Regions from separate parts of the Homo sapiens genome. Here region 2 is linked to region 1. Evidence: fine-mapped expression QTL. A gene starts in region 1. The other region holds a variant in brackets. All regions are shown on one strand. Distances are between the middles of the regions. Region 1 holds the start of DCAF8 (DDB1 and CUL4 associated factor 8). Region 2 overlaps COPA (coat protein complex I subunit alpha).

Region 1 (8,322 bases):
ATACTACCTAATAAGATGTCACAATTCTTAAGTAAACACCTAAAACCCTGGAAATATAAAAATATCTTCAAGCTGGGTGCTGCGGCTATGCCTGTAATCCCAGCACTTTGGGAGGCCAAGATGGGAGCATCACTTGAGCCGGGCAAGTAAGACCTCATCTCTTTAAAAAAACAAACAAACAAAAAAAAAACAACCAAAAATTAGCTAGGTATGGTGATATGCCCCTGCGGTCCCAGCTACTCAGCTGAGGTGGGAAGATCACTTGAGCCCAGGAGTTTGAGACCAGCCTAGGCAACAAAGTGAGACCCTATCTCTACAAAAATAAAAAAAACTTTAGAAAGATAAAAAGTTTACAGTGTGGTCCACAGACTAGAAATACTGATTTACTACATATAGATGTCACCTGGACATTCTTACCCAGCACATAAGGAAATAAACAGTCCAAGTTATCCCTCTTTCAAAGTATTTCCTTTTCTCCTCCCATCCTTTCCTTCACCCGACATGGATCTTCAGAGTTCATAAAAACACAAATGATACAAATGCAATCTCAACCCACCTCACCACCACCCTGGAGAATCCTTACCTTACAATGGAGAATTTAGACCCTGGATGATGGTAATGAAAAGTTCATCAAACCTAAAATGGTCACTGGTCTGAATGACACAGCTGCTTTCATTGTGATATTATCAGTACTTAATTTTCATGTGCCCTTGCCAAAAAGATACGAAAGAAAAGCCAACAAAAGGTTTAAAACTCTTCATCTGTGCTGTCATATTATTAAGACGGTCCAGCTGTGGAGCTGAAAAAAGAACTCTTTGGCCGGGCATGGTGGTTCACACCTGTAATCCTAGCACTTTGGGAGGCTGAGGCGGGCAGATCACAAGGTCAGGAGATTGAGACCACCCTGGCCAACATGGTGAAACCCCTCCTCTACTAAAAATACAAAAATTAGCTGGGCATGGTGGCGCATGCCTGTAATCCCAGCTACTCGGGAGGTTGAGGCAGGAGAATCGCTTGAACCAGGGAGTCGGAGGTTGCAGTGGGCTGAGATCGCGCCACAGCACCCCAGCCTGGTGACAGAGCAAGACTCGTCAAAAAACAAACAAACAAACAAAAAAAACCTCTTCATTCCTAACTCCCCAGCCCTGATTCACTTTTAAAAAAAGAGACCTTTTCCTCATACAGTTCTTTGATAATTTGTTGATGAGGATCACTGTATAGCCCAACAAGAAGGAAAAAATGTATTCCCTTCATGGCAAAAAAGGAAAGTATAAAGAATAGTTGCAGTAGAAGTAAACAACATTGCAGCAGAGAGGGAAAGAATTACAACACGGCCAACTCTGATCAGGTGTGCTAACAGAGAGTCCAAGATGAAGGAACCAATGAACAAAAAAATTTACTGATGTTTAAGAATACATTTTGAAATATACATACACCAATATCTAATATTCTCTGTCCTCTGGTTATGAACCCCCACCAAGGGTTTCATGTTCAGAAGACAACTCTAGGTGGGCACTTACAAAGGACACGTCTAAGCTGACCAATTAAAAATCAGTTGGGAAAATTAACCAGAAAAATGTGTTCTAAGGCAAAATGTAAAAGAAGCATAAATTAACGTATAACTTATTCAAAGCTGTATCAATGATGTGCAAAAAAAAAAAACCAAAAAACAACATTTTTTGAGTGTGTACCACGTGTTCTTAGATTACTAAGAGCTTTAAATAGATTCCCTATAATACTAACAATGACCCTGGGAGGTAAGTGGTATTATCACACTTTTAGAGTTGTGGAAATTAAGAGTCAGAGAAGTTTAAGTAACTTGCTCAAGGTCACATGGCTAAGAAATATTAGTCTAGTATTTAAACCTTAAAATTAAATTAAAAGTCTGTCCAATCTCTAAAGACTGTACTTTTCTCTTTATATCTTACTGATACACATATACACCATCACTAATAATTTTATTCCAGTCCATGATGAGCATTTTCTAATTCAGTCATCAGATGGAATAAAACTCACCAGTGTCACTCAATATTTTCCTACTACAAATCATAAAGATATTAGGAATTGGCCAGGCCTACCTTCCAGTCACTTAGCTTTTCTGTCACATGCCATGAGCCTCTAGTCTCTGCTACCAGAAACCTGAAAGCCTCACGAAAACTGCATTTATAAGTATGTTCTGACTCCCTTTTTGGCACCAACCCATGCTGCTGAATGCCCAGGATGTTTCTTCTGCTAACCAAGAATTCTTCAGACCAGCTACAAAAGAAAGAGCAGCCACTATTTTTTTTTTTTTTTTACAAAAAATTTCCCACTATATCCTAAAAAGTCGGAATTCTGAAATAGACTGGACTCAGACACCAACTAAAGGCAGCATCACTCATCACTCCCCAGCTTTTAGTCACAAGCAGCTAAATATTCTCCTCTAAATACCAAGGGATGACAACCCGAAGCTGTGAGAGGGGAAGAGACCTGATTTGACAACAGGATGAACAGAACTCAGGCAAACTAAGTTCCAGTTTTTAACAACGTAAAAAATATGATCGACACAAAGACAAAATACAAGGAAAATGAATAAAGAAGAAAAGAAGACATGGGGCAGGGGGCACACATTCACTTCTAGGCTTAAGTCATTTGGAGATACACAGCAATAGTTTAGGACAGAAAGACAAGAAGCCCACAGACAATTAAACTTGTAAAAGTAATTCAACCAGAGCTGGAACAAAGCCAAGAACAACACTCAAGCTCTTTGGGAAACTGGTAGGAATTTTATGACTTTAGTGGTCAGCAGTTGAGCATCAGCGCAGTCTGTCTTGAACTCAAGAATTTTAATGCCTCCAACTCCCACTCACCTTTCCTCCTTTTATCACTGAAGTAAGGCCAGGCTGAGCTCCTGAGAAAATAGGTCTGTAGATTCACTGAAGGACTGAGAAAAGTTAAAATTTACATGGCAAAGGTGTGTCTTCTACTGAACATAATAAAAATATTTATGAATACACTTTAGTATTTTTAGGCCTTCTCAAAACTACTTAAAAGCAGAATACTTTATCTAATTCTAATTACTGAACAAATAACCCACACACATATGGAAATAAAATGAACCAACATGAAGATTAGAAGCCAGGCAAGTAATCTCCCAGCTCCACTAAAACGTAAAGTCATTTAAAAGGATAACCTGAATCTTTTCAACGCTAAACCATAACCAAACAACCTCTCAACAAGAAGCCACAGAGCAGGGGGGGAAATCCCGGAGAGAATGTGATAGCGCTAGTGCCGGTTTGTTTACAGAGACTCCAGTAACAATCATGAGTCAGAAATTCAAGCCACCAGATGCTTTCCAACTAACAGGGACCAAATGGGACCGTTCTAAGATATCCTAAAAGATTTGGGAGTTAGAGGAGGTAAACTAAGATAATTATATTACAAAGGGTACAAGACCACAAGACAACAACCGACTCCGGAATTCTTGGACCTCCGCCTTCCGTACAAGGTGCTGGGCCTGGGAACTTGGGATGGGGGAGGGGGACACATTGCGCGGTGGCCCTGAGGTGACGGGGAGACGCAGGGCGAGCCGTGTCCCTCAATCTAAGGGGAGAAATAGGAGCGCACACATGGGTCACCCAACGAAGCAAGGCGTCCCTGTGAACTGTGCGGCTGGCTCTTGGGGGCAACACCAGGGCTGACCTGAGGAAAGGGCAACCAGTACTCCCAGCGATGACTTCGGGTCGGCGGAAGGAAAAGACCTGAGCGCTAAGAGCTTGGGATACGGGTCAGGCCCATCCTTAGGGGAAACCGGCTGGGAAGCGAGGGGGGGCGCAGGCCGAGCCGGAACGAGACACAGACCGGGTAGGTCAAGGGAGGGGGGGTGTCCGGCTGGGGCAGTTACAAGCACGGGAATCGGCGAGGCTCAGCAGCCCGCTTCCCGTCTTGGGTCATCCTTCTGCTAGCGGCTGCTCCGACTGTTCCAGGCCCAGCCGCCCCGTCCACTGCCACCACCAACGCCGCCGCCATCTTACACTGGCCAGCGGCCGCCACCACCACCGCCTCCGCTCTCTGCGCTTGCGCCTGCGCTGCCACGCTTTCCGGCCCCGTTTGCGACGATGTGCTCGAGAAGACTGAGGGAAGAGTGGTCGCGCGAGCTCACGGCTCGCAACCCTCCTCGAAGGACGCACAAGGGGCGGGGCTTAAGGCCAACGGAAAACAGAGCGAGAGGCGCCTGCGCATTACCGAAGAGGCAAAGTTGTTTTTGTAGTTTCTTCGGGCTTGCTTATCTTGTGATACTCTAAACAAATGCGAGTTAGGGGCTACCCAGAGTTGTGATAGAAATAAACTAAATTTCCAGCGGATTGGCAGGCCACTTCCTGGATGATGGCCAGTTTTGCCGTTTTTGAACACTGGAACGAGCAATGATTGCCACAAGGATTTCTTCTGAAAATCCCCGTTTCCTTTCAGGGCTTTGTTTCCTTAAGTGGTTTCTATACTATCGAGGCCCATTTTCCCCTGAGAGTCCCCATTTACGTATTTTTAAAGAAGGGGCTCAGTAGCTTGAGGTGTAGCTATTCCAGAAGCTCTTTTCTGAAGAGAGGTGGTGTGGGTAAAGGTTCCCAAGAGTGGGCCGGGTGATGTGGGGTGACTTTTGTACTCTGTTTCGTTATGACACCTACAGTAACCCTGCAGAGGATTACTCCCAGCTGCCAGGCTGGGGTATTTTTTTTTTTTTTCTTACCAGAAGCCCAGGGTGCAAAAATCTGACCCTTTCTCACCTCCCCTACCGCTACTCTCCTATTCCAAGTCATTACATATTACTTAAGACTACCGCAATAGAAACTTACCTCGTTTGTCTACTTCCATTATTGCCATTACAGTTAAACATAAGGCAGCCAGAGTGCTTTTTAAAAATGTAAGGTCTGGCCGGGCGCGGTGGCTCATGCCTGTAATCCTAGCACTTTGGGAGGCGGATGTGGGCGGATCACTTGAGGTCAGGAGTTCGAAACTCGTTTGAAACCAGGCCAACATGGTGAAACCCGTCTCTACGAAAAATACAAAAAAAAAAAAAAATTACCCGGCATGGTGGAGCGCGCCTGCAATCCCAGCTACTTGGGAGGCTGAGGCAGGAGAATTGCTTGAACCCGGAGGCGGAGGTTGCAGTGAGCTGAGATCGCACCACTGCACTCCAGGCTGGGCAATGGAATGAGACTCCGTCTCAAAAAAAAAGTAATGTCGTATTATTTCCCCAGTCCCCACCCTGCTCAAAACCTCCAATTCCCATCACATAATAAAAGTCAAAAGTATGATAGCCTTAGAGGCCATCAAAAAATGAATTGCCTCTAAGGAGGACCCTACATGATCTGATCTAGCACCTGCCTATTTATCTGATTCATCTCCTCCCACACTGCCTAGCTCTGCTCTAGCCTCACTAGCCTTACTGTCACTCCAGTCAAAGCATGTCCCAGCCCTAGGGTTTTTTTCCTTTTCTTGGAATGTCCATCTACTAGATATTTACTAGACTTGAGGTGTCTATTGAAATCCTACTTCCTAACACAGGCAGCTCTTGACTATTGTAACTAAAATGGAACCTCATGTCATCCTCCTCTATCCCCTTACTCTGCACTGTTTTTTTAATAACATTTTTTACCTATAACATTTAATCTAAAATTATGTTTGTGATCCAGCTATACTACTAGAATATAAATTCTTGAGGGCAAGGACTGTGTTTTTATCATCTTTGTAATCTCAACACCTAGAAGAGGGCTACAGCACAAAGTAGCTATTTAATGCCCCACCGTCCTATTCATTCTTTCATTCATTCAGTCAACAACTATTGAATTCCTGCTCTGGAAGGCCCTGTTCTATGTGCTGGGGCTGCAACAGTGAATAGAACCAAGATTCTTGCATTCATGGAACTTATTAGTGCAAGGGTTGGGAGCATAGGAGGAGGGGAGAGACACACAGATAATAAAGTTATAAAGAGTACTGTAAAGGAAAATAAAGCAGAATAAAAATGGGTTACCTGGATGGGTGTGCTCTTTTACATAGGGGATTCAGAGAAGGCCCCTCTGCTGAGGTGACATCTAAATAAAGGTTTGAAGTGAGACAATAAGCTATACATACTTGGGAAAGAATATTTCAAGCAGAAGAAACAACAAGGTAAAGACCCTGCAGCTTGAGTGTGCTTGGCAAGGAAGCCACTGTGGCAAAAGAATAGATAGGAACTTAGTTTGGAGAAACAAGATGGGAGCCAGATCACTTACGGACTTATGGACCAAAGAAAGGACTTTGAATTTTATCCTAAGAATGCTAGGAAGCCATGGAGGGTTTTGAGTAGAAGAGTGGCATGATCTGATTTATAATTGAAGATGTTCACTCTGGTTATTCTTTGAGAATTCCCTATAGGGAAGCCAAATAGAAGCTAAAAGACCAGTTAGGAAGCTATTGCAGAAGACCTGCAAAACTAGTGTTGCAATGAAATTGGTAGGATTCAGGATGTACTCTGAAAGTGGTGGAGAGGTGATGTGTTAATAGATTGAATGTGGGGTACAAGATAAAGACAAGAATAAAAAATCAGTAAAAAAGTACAAAAGTCAAAGTACAAAAATCAGTTTGATTTGAGTAACTGGATAAATAGTGATGTCGTTTACTGAGAGCGCATGTGAGGAGACAGGAGCAAGGTTTTTTTTGGCGGGGGGGAATGTCCAATTTTACTTCAAACATATTAAACTGGAGATCCCTATTAGATTTCCGAATGGAGCTACTGAGTAAACAATTGGAAATATGAACCTGGGGCTCATACAAGGGACAATGAGAGGTATAAATTAAGGATTAATTAAGTTATAAATGGCATACATAGCCATGGGGTGGAGAGAAATCAATGTGGAAGCAAAGAGAAGCAGTTTAAAGACTGAGACCTCTAATCCTGAGGCATTCCAACTAATAAAGGTCAGAGAGGAGGAACATACAGCAAAATTTATTTAAAAAGAGTAGCCAGGAAATAGGAAGAATAAAACTCAAAAGTGAGGGGTCTTATAAAACAAACCAAAAAAAAAAAGCTTCAAGAAGGGGCTATAATCTCCATCATTCCTGTCATAAAACAGGTTAAGATAACTGGAAATTGACCATCGGACTTGGAAAATGGAGGATTAGACCATGGCAAGTCATCTTAGTGGAAGCTATAGGGATAGAGGCCTCCCTTTCTATGATCTGCTTTTTGTACCCACTGTTTTGTGGACACCATGGTTATTACCACCAAATCAATAGCTATTACCACTGAATTCTCCCTTTCTTATTTGGGCTTTCCTATTGAATTTGAGGTTGTGATGATTATTATCCCTTGTGTATCCATCTTGTGACAGATACTCAATCCCACTGGTTTCCGTAACACTATATTCCACGGTTTTGTTTTTATCTCTCTAATCATTTATTTAATTAGCTTCTCTTCCCCTTCATTCTACATGTTCTTTCAGTGATTGTATCCATTCTCACATTTAAACTACTGTCCAGGGCCGGGCGCAGTGGGTCACGTCTGTAATTCCAGCACTTTGGAAGGCCAAGGTGGGCAGATTGTTTGAGCTCAGGACCAGCCTGGGCAACATGGCGAAACCTCATCTCTACAAAAAATACAAAAATTAGCAGGGAGTGGTGGTGTGCACCAGCTACTCAGGAGGCTGAGGTAGGAAGATCTCTTGAGCCTGGGAGGCAGAGGTTGCAGTGAACTGAGGTCACACCACTGCACTCCAGCCTGGATGACAGAGTGAGACCCTGTCTCCAAAAAAAAGAAAAACTACCATCCACGTAATGATGACTTCCAAGTCTTTTATTTTTATTTTTTATTTTTTTATTTTTTAGAAACTGATGTTTATTTTCCATCAACCATTTTTCCATGTTGCTTAAGAGCCCATGCAAGAACAGCTTAAGACCATTCAGTGGTTGCTCCTACCCATTCAGTGGCCTGAGCAGTGGGAGCTGCAGACCAGTATTCCGTGGCAGGCTGAGTGCTCCATTGTTCAGTAGGAACTGCTGAATAGGCACAGAGGGCACCTGTATACCTTCAAACCAGTCTGCAACCTCAGGCTGAGTAGCAGTGAACTCAGGAGCTGGAGCAGACCATTCACCCTGAAATTCCTCCTTGGTCACTGCCTTTTCAGCAGCAGCCTGCTCTTCTTTTTCAATCTCTTCAGGATCTCTGTAGAAGCAGAGATCAGGCATGACCTCCCATGGGTGTTCACGGGAAATGGTGCCACGCATGCACAGTACTTCCCGAGCCAGCATCCACCACATCAAACCCACTCAGTGAGCTCCCTTGTTGTTGCACGGGATGGCAATGTCCAC
Region 2 (8,322 bases), 53 kb after region 1:
CTACTCATGACCACTTCCTTGCCTCCCTCACTCATTGGGTTTAAACTGAGCGGGCTCATCTAATGGGGATTCCATCTGTGACAGAATACGAGATCCAAAATGTCATTTAAAAGAAGAGTCTTGGTTGGGTGCGGTGGCTCACGCCTGCAATCCCAGAACTTTGGGAGGCCGAGGTGGGCGGATCACAAGGTCAGGAGTTCGAGGCCAGCCTGACCAACACAGCGAAACCCCGTCTCTACTCAAAATACAAAATTAGCCAGGTGTGGTGGTGCACACCTGTAATCCCAGCTACTTGGGAGACTGAGGCAGGAGAATTGCTTGAACCCAGGAGGTGGAGGTTGCAGTGAGCTGAGGTTGCATCACTGCGCTCCAGCCTGGGTGACAGAGTGAGACTCCATCTCAAAAAAAAAAAATTTAAAAATAAATAAATAGGCTGGGCGCGGTGGCTCACGCCTGTAATCCCAGCACTTTGGGAGGCCAAGCCAGGCAGATCATGAGGTCAGGAGATTGAGACCATCCTGGCTAACATGGTGAAACCGTCTCTACTAAAAAATACAAAAAATTAGCCAGGCGTGGTGGCGGGCGCCTGTAGTCCCAGTACTTGGGAGGCTGAGGCAGGAGAATGGTGTGAACCCGGGAGGCGGAGCTTGCAGTGAGCCGAGATCGCGCCACTGCACTCCAGCCTGGGCGACAAAGCGAGACTCCGTCTCAAAAAAAAATTAAATAAATAAAATAAATAAATGAAAGAAAGAAAAGAAGAGTCTTGTTTGTGGGAGTTGTATCAGGGTGACAGATGAGAGGGTTTGGAGGAAAGAAACAAGTCCGATTTACCTCCGCAACTGCATCACAGCTACATCTTTGGAGCTGTTGAAATCCAGCTGTCGTAAGAATCGGTCCTTGACATAGTGTAGCATATTGCCATGAACAGCATAGGCTGGCCGTTCCCGTTCCAGCTTAAACACAATCATACCACCATCATGGCCTGGGGGACAGGGAGAGGAGGAGAAAAAATTAAGCTGTAGGCAAGAAAAAAACCTGGAAATTGGAGATACGTAAGGATGAAGATTATATCTGTAAGACAAGACACCTGAATGCATCCCTTATTTGCCTAAATTCTCACAATTCTTGGAATCTTTATTTAAATAATTCTCTGTGAATCCTTTCCTAATACTATTCACACTGCCACACTTAGTGTCACTATCCACACTGCCCTTTTCTGTGTTCCCCTAATGCTTTGTACAAACCTCCATTACAGTACTTATCATCCTGCACTGTAATCATTTAGGTCTATCACCCACATTGTAACATGAATTCCCTGAAGGCAGAAATTATAATTTCCATCCTTCCCCAGTCTCTAGCATATAAAAAGAGTATAAGAAGTATTTACTGAAAAAATGGATGTTAAAAACCCTTTGTGATTCTGTTTTTTAAAATGTTTTGCTCTTTCCCTACTAGCACCATCATCCCTTAGAAAACCCTTCCACTCTTGTTCTCCTACTGTCTGCTCTCCAAATATAAACCAGATCATGTCACTTTCCTGCCCAAAACCTTCCAATGGCTTTCCATGTATTCAGAATAAAATCTTAAGTTCTAACCATGGCATAGAAGGCAATACACGATCTGGCCAGACCTCACCTGTTACTCAGTCCCTTACTCACTGTGCTCCAACTGGCCTCTTTGGTGTTCCTTAGCATGTGATGGTGACATGCTAAGCACCTCTCACAACACAGTCTCTGCATTTGCTGTTCCCATTGCCTCATACCCTTTCACTTTTCTGAACCACCCAATATAAAGCAGCAGTCCCCATACTCATCTGTCTCTATCTGCCTTACCTTTAATTTTTCTTCAAAGCATTTTTCACCACACATCATTTTACGTACATATAAAGTGGAAGAAAAAAAGGAGAAAAGCTTCAACTAAGTGGCTCTGAGAGTCCTTCTTCTTCTTGTCATCCTACTATACATTTACTAGAGACAAAGCTAATAATCACTTTCAAGACTTATAAACTTTGAATTAAGCAAAGAAAAAAGAGAGAAAATGGCCCTTACCTGCTGCAAAGAGGTTAAGGTTAGGGTGAGCAGCTAGGACCCAGAAACGATCATGGTCTCTGCGGAAAGTCTGAACCCCAGTCCTAGAAAAGGTACACAAAAAGAAAAACATTAATTTCCTAGGAATCTTCAGCCCATCCTACACAAGAATATTAAATGGTAAGCCAGCAAGCTGATTAAAATGTAAATCAGGGAGAGTAAACTGCATATCCTAAGTAACAGTAGTCGTGATAAATTCTACCAAGGAACAAAAAGAGGAGACTTCAAAACTGACCATATTATTATGATATATAGATTTCCCCTTTTCAGCATAATTTTATGGCTTTCATTCTGCATTTTTTTTTTTTTGAGACGGAGTCTCGCTCTGTTGCCCAGGCTGGAGTGCAGTGGCGCGATCTCGGCTCACTGCAAGCTCCACCTCCCAGGTTCATGCCATTCTTCTGCCTCAGCCTCCTGAGTAGCTGGGACTACAGGCGCCCGCCACCACGCCCGGCTAATTTTTTGTATTTTTAGTAGAGACGGGGTTTCATTGTGTTAGCCAGGATGGTCTCAATCTCCTGACCTCGTGATCCACCCGCCTCAGCCTCCCAAGTGCTGGGATTACAGGCATGAGCCACCGCGCCCGGCCTCATTCCGCATTTCTTACTTCTCTAGCTACAGAACTGGGGAAAGGGGGAAGAAGAAAACATGTTTAAATTTAGAGGCAAAAAATAATATACATGGAGATTTCTATTTGATGGAAAATTTGTAAATGTTGACTGATCTCTAGGTCTCTTCAAATTTTCATAATATATGATTTGATTTGTCTACATGCTGAAGATGATGAGAGACATAAAGAAGTATTCCAATCTAATTTTAAAAGAGAGAGTAAGAGAAAGTTCACACAACACTGAGGACTACCTTACCGCTTAGACATATCCCAGACTCGAATACTCTTGTCCTCAGAATTGCTGAGGATCAACTCTTGGCGAGGGTGGAAGACGGCACAAGATACATTGTTGTAATGGCCCCGGCAGGTATCAACCTCCCATGCCTTTGATTCTGAAGGACAAAAAGAATTAGGTCATCACAATTCCCTACTACTATAACTTTAGGATTTGGAGATATGACATCCTCTTCATCAAGAACTAAGTACTATTACAGAATGCTAAATTGCCAACTTCTTTCTAATATGGCAATCTTCTTCATTTAAGTCTCTTAATCTTTACATGTCTTGGTTCTTTCATTCTGACCCTCTTATTGATTATAAAACCTCTTCTCTTGGCCAGACATGGTGGCTCACACCTGTAATCCCAGAACTTTGGGAGGCTAAGGTAGGGGGATCACTTGAGCCTAGGAGTTCGAGATCAGCCTGGGCAACATGGTAAAAAACCCCATCTCTACAAAAAATACAAAAATTAACTGGGTGTTGTGGCGCACGTTTGTAGTCCCAGCTACTCAGGAGGCTGAGGGGGAGGATCGCCCAAGCCCAAAAGGTCAAGACGGCAGTGAGCCGTGAATGCACCACCAAACTCCAGGCTGGGCAACAGAGCAAGACCCTGTCTCAAAAAAACAAACACCTCTTTTTCATCATTCTCCATCCCTTTATCCTGTTTTATCTGTCCTGATAACAACTGTCCTAGTTGGCCTTTCAATTTTTGTTATTTTTTCTTTTTTTCAGGGACCTGCCACTTTAGGAGTTGCCATTTTAGAACAAATATGAGCTCCTTCAGACAGGGGCCTTATCTGTTTTAGTCACCGCTGTATCTCCAGAGCCTTAAACAAAGTCTAGTACAAAGGAGGTACTCAATAAATATTTGTCAAATGAATGGATGAATTCTATGTTCATACTCCTCAAAATAAGGGTACCACCACAGGAAAAAAGGGAAAGAAGGAATACTTTCAGTTTCAAAACAGTGGTATAGAAGCAAGCTGGCTTCACTCCCCTCCACAGAAAACCCAAAACAAATATACAGTGCTGAGATTTTCATCAGCAACAACCCAGAACTCAAATATGACAATGAGACAGTTCCTGGGGCCACAGAGAGATGAAAAAACTCTGAGCAGATGGTAAGAGCATCTGATTTCCACATCTGCAATGGCCCTCCCCCAACTCATGGTTTCTACACTGGAAAAAGTGAGACTGAGGAGGTCAACTACCTTCCCCATCTTCCTGGGTGCCCTGGCAGGAGATCTAACCTTGACTTAACCCATGGGAAGCATCACGACTGCCTGAAAGGGGAAATATCCCTGAGGACAGGCAGAGAGAAAG[C/G]GGGGAGGCAAGACTATCACACCCAGCCCCAGAAACTCTGCTCTGTTACTTGGCCAAAGGAGATGCCAAATCAGAGTGGCTGCTCAGCAGCACTGCATTGCAGGAAGTATATTCCACAGGTCTGCCCATACACGAACCTCTAGCCAGCCTTGACACACAGCTGGGATAATCCCTTTGGGACCTCCCCATTCAGGACAGACAATGCTCTGGTCATTTACTAAAGCCAAGGTGAACCCGGACTTAAGGTGTCACCTAAAGCCAAAGAGGAGGAAGTGACCTAGCAGTACAGATTTGCTAAGCAAATATATCCAATAAAAACCAAAGCAAGCCAAACAGAGAAAACTGGAATAAGTAACTAATCTTTCAATACAAAGACATAGGTGTATACCCAAAATAAACAATAGCAAACAGGGAACCATAACCTCCCCACAAGGACAAAGCAAAAATACAATGACTGACCCTAAAATGACAGCAATTTGTGATCTCTGACCAAGAATTAAAACTGGTAGTTTAAAGGAAACCCTGTTATCGCCAAGAGATGGCTGAAAAACAATTAAGAAATTTACCAGAGAAGTTTAACAAAGAGATTGAAACAATGAAAACAAATCAAACAGAAATCTTGAAACAGAAACACATTTGCTGAAATGAAGAGCTCATTAGAGACTCTGAATAGCAGACTGGACCAAGTGGAGGAAAAAAATCAGTGAGCTCGAAGACTGGCTGTTTGAAAAATACACAGTCAGGCTGGGCATGGTGGCTCACACCTATAATCCCAGCACTTTGGGAGGCCGAGGTGGGTGGATCACAAGGTCAGGAGTTCGAGACCAGCCTGGCCGACATAGTGAAACCCTGTTTCTACTAAAAATACCAAAATTAGCCAGACCTGGTGGTGGATGCCTGTAATACCAGCTACTTGGGAGGCTGAGGCAGGAGAATCACTTGAACCCGGGAGGTGGAGGTTGCAGTGAGCTGAGATTGTACCATTGCACTCCAGCCTGGGTGACAGAGCAAGACCCTGTCTTGAAAAAAAAAGAAGTCAGAGGAAAAAATAAAAAGAATGAAAAGGAACAAAGACTACCTACAAGACTACAAGATACAGAAAATTGCCTCAAAAGACCAAATTTAAGAACAATTGGCTGGCGTGGTGGCTCATGCCTGTAATCATAGCACTTTGGGAGGCTGAGGTGGGCGGATCATCTAAGGTCAGGAGTTTGCAACCACCCTAACCAACATGGAGAAACCCTGTCTCTACTAAAAATACAAAATTAGCCGGGTGTGGTGGTGCATGCCTATAATCCCAGCTACTCGGGAGGCTGAGGGAGGAGAATCACTTGAACTCGGGAGGCGGAGGTCATGGTGAGCTGAGATCGCACCATTGCACTCCAGCCTGGCCAACAAGAGCAAAATTCTGTCTCAAAAAAAAAAAAAAAGAATGATTGGTTTTCAAGAGGGAGCTAAGCAAGAGCAAGCGTAGAAAGCTTATTCAAAGAAATAATTACAGAAAATTTTCCAAAACTTGAGGAAGAAATATCCAGGTACAGGAAGGCCTGAGAACACCAAACAGGTCCAACCCAAGTAAGACTACCCTAAGGCATATAAAAGTCAAACTCTCAAAAGTCAAGGACAAAGAAAGGATCCTAAAATACACAACAGAAAAGAAGCAAAGAACACACAAAGGAGCTCCAATTTGTCTGGCAATAGATGTTTCAATGCAAACCATACAGGCCAAGAGAGAGAGGAATGACATTTTCCAAGTGCTCAAAGAAAAAACCTGACATCTAAGAATACTGTACCCAGCAAGATTATTTTATTTTCCAAATATGAAGGATAGTATTTCCCATACAAACAAAAGGTGAGAATTTACCACCACCAGATCCATCTTACAGTAAGTGTTAAAAGTAGTTCTTCGATCTGAAAGAAAAAAACACTAATGTGGTAGCGGAAGTTACTGCAGCTGCGGTGTTGTGCTGTGGGGAAGGGAGAAGGATTTGTAAACCCCGGAGTGAGGTTCTGCTTACCCGAGGCCGCTGCTGTGCGGAGACCCCCGGGTGAAGCCACTGTCATCATGTCTGACCAGGAGGCAAAACCTTCAACTGAGGACTTGGGGGATAAGAAGGAAGGTGAATATATTAAACTCAAAGTCATTGGACAGGATAGCAGTGAGATTCACTTCAAAGTGAAAATGACAACACATCTCAAGAAACTCAAAGAATCATACTGTCAAAGACAGGGCGTTCCAATGAATTCATTCAGGTTTCTCTTTGAGGGTCAGAGAATTGCTGATAATCATACTCCAAAAGAACTGGGAATGGAGGAAGAAGATGTGATTGAAGTTTATCAGGAACAAATGGGGGGTCATTCAACAGTTTAGATATTCTTTTTATTTTTTTTCTTTTCCCTCAATCCTTTCTCATTTTTAAAAATAGTTCTTTTGTAATGTGGTGTTAAAAACGGAATTGAAAACTGGCACCCCATCTCTTTGAAACATCTGGTAATCTGAATTCTAGTGCTCATTATTCATTATTGTTTATTTTCATTGTGCTGATTTTTGGTGATCAAGCCTCAGTCCCCTTCATATTACCCTCTCCTTTTTAAAAATTACGTGTGCACAGAGAGCCCACCTTTTTCAGGACATTGCATTTTCAGGCTTGTGGTGATAAATAAGATTGACCAATGCAAGCGTTCATAATAACTTGCGAATTGGCCCTGATGTTCTAGCATGTGATTACTTCACTCCTGGACTGTGACTTTCAGTGGGAGATGGAAGTGTTTCAGAGAACTGAAACTGTGGAAAAATGACCTTTCCTTAACTTCAAGCTACTCTTAAATTTGAGGGTCTGGACCAAAAGAAGAGGAATATCGGGTTGAAGTCAAGATAACTGATAAGGAGAGAGTAATGACTAACTCCAAAGATGGCTTCATTGAAGAAAAGGCATTTTAAGATTTTTTAAAAATCTTGTCAGAAGATCCCAGAAAAGTTCTAATTTTCATTAGCAATTAATAAAGCTATACATGCAGAAATGAATACAACAGAACACTGCTCTTTTTGATTTTATTTGTACTTTTTGGCCTGGGATATGGGTTTTAAATGGACATTGTCTGTACCAGCTTCATTAAAATAAACAATATTTGTAAAAAAAAAAAAAAAAAAAAAAACAAAAAAAAAAAAAAAACACTAATGTGCAAAAAGAAAACTTTTCAAGATATAAAACCCAAGATGTAAAATTAAGTTCATAGACAAACCCAGAAGACTATATTACTATAATGGTGGTACACAATCCACTTATAACTTTACTATGAAGCCCAAAAGACAAATATATCAAAAGCAATAATAGCTATAGCAACATGTTAAAGAGATAGTCAAAAAGGCAGGAACAGAAATGGAGTTAAATGTATAATTTCTGAGTGTGTTTTAGCCTTTGTTTTTGTTCTTGTGTTTGTGATATAAAATAAGCTGTCATCTCTTTAAAATACCTTATTCTATCTATAAGATTTTTTTTTGTGAATCTCATGGTAATTACAGCACAAAAACTATTAATATATACTCACTAAAAATAAAAAGCATCAAATTAAGACATATTACCAAAGAAAATCACTTAACCACAAAAGAAGACAGTAAGAAAAGGAAGAGAGAAGCCTCAAAAAAAAACAAAACAAAACCAGAAAACAAGCAAAAAACAGCAGTAATAAGTCCTTGCTTATCAATAATATCACTGAATGTAAATGCTCTCAATTCTTCAATTAAAAGGCATAGAGTGGCTAAACGGATAAAGAGAGAAGACCTAACTATATGCTGCCCTCAAGAAACCCATTTACCTATACAGACACACATAGACTGAAAACGAAGGAGTGGGAGATATTCCATGAAACTGGAAACCAGAAAAGAGCAGGCGTAGCTATACTTACATGAGATAAAACAGACTACCAAACCTAAGATTGTAAAAAGAGACAAAGAAGGTCACTATATAATGATAAAGGGGTCAATTCAGCAAGAGGAAATAACAATTATAAGTATCTGTGCAC

The links. PIP is the estimated chance that this variant, and not a neighbour inherited with it, causes the effect.
Region 2: its variant is fine-mapped to the expression of DCAF8 in whole blood (TOPMed, PIP above 0.99).

Annotation. Positions count from the first base shown.
Region 1 is chr1:160,258,436-160,266,757 of GRCh38, forward strand. It overlaps DCAF8 (DDB1 and CUL4 associated factor 8), which reads right to left and starts at 4,114. Exons shown (of 14, transcript NM_015726.4): 1 at 4,014-4,114; 2 at 2,850-2,923. DCAF8-DT (DCAF8 divergent transcript) reads left to right here and starts at 3,314. Exons shown (of 2, transcript NR_147618.1): 1 at 3,314-3,487; 2 at 3,966-4,343. It also overlaps the pseudogene RPSAP18. RefSeq lists enhancers at 3,049-3,997, 3,169-3,298, 3,929-4,198.
Region 2 is chr1:160,311,037-160,319,358 of GRCh38, forward strand. It overlaps COPA (coat protein complex I subunit alpha), which reads right to left. Exons shown (of 33, transcript NM_004371.4): 9 at 2,954-3,089; 10 at 2,049-2,131; 11 at 832-982. It also overlaps the pseudogene SUMO1P3. Among named protein-coding and RNA genes, the nearest start is that of COPA, 28 kb to the right of the region's middle. The variant C/G (reference allele first, on the strand shown) is at 4,300.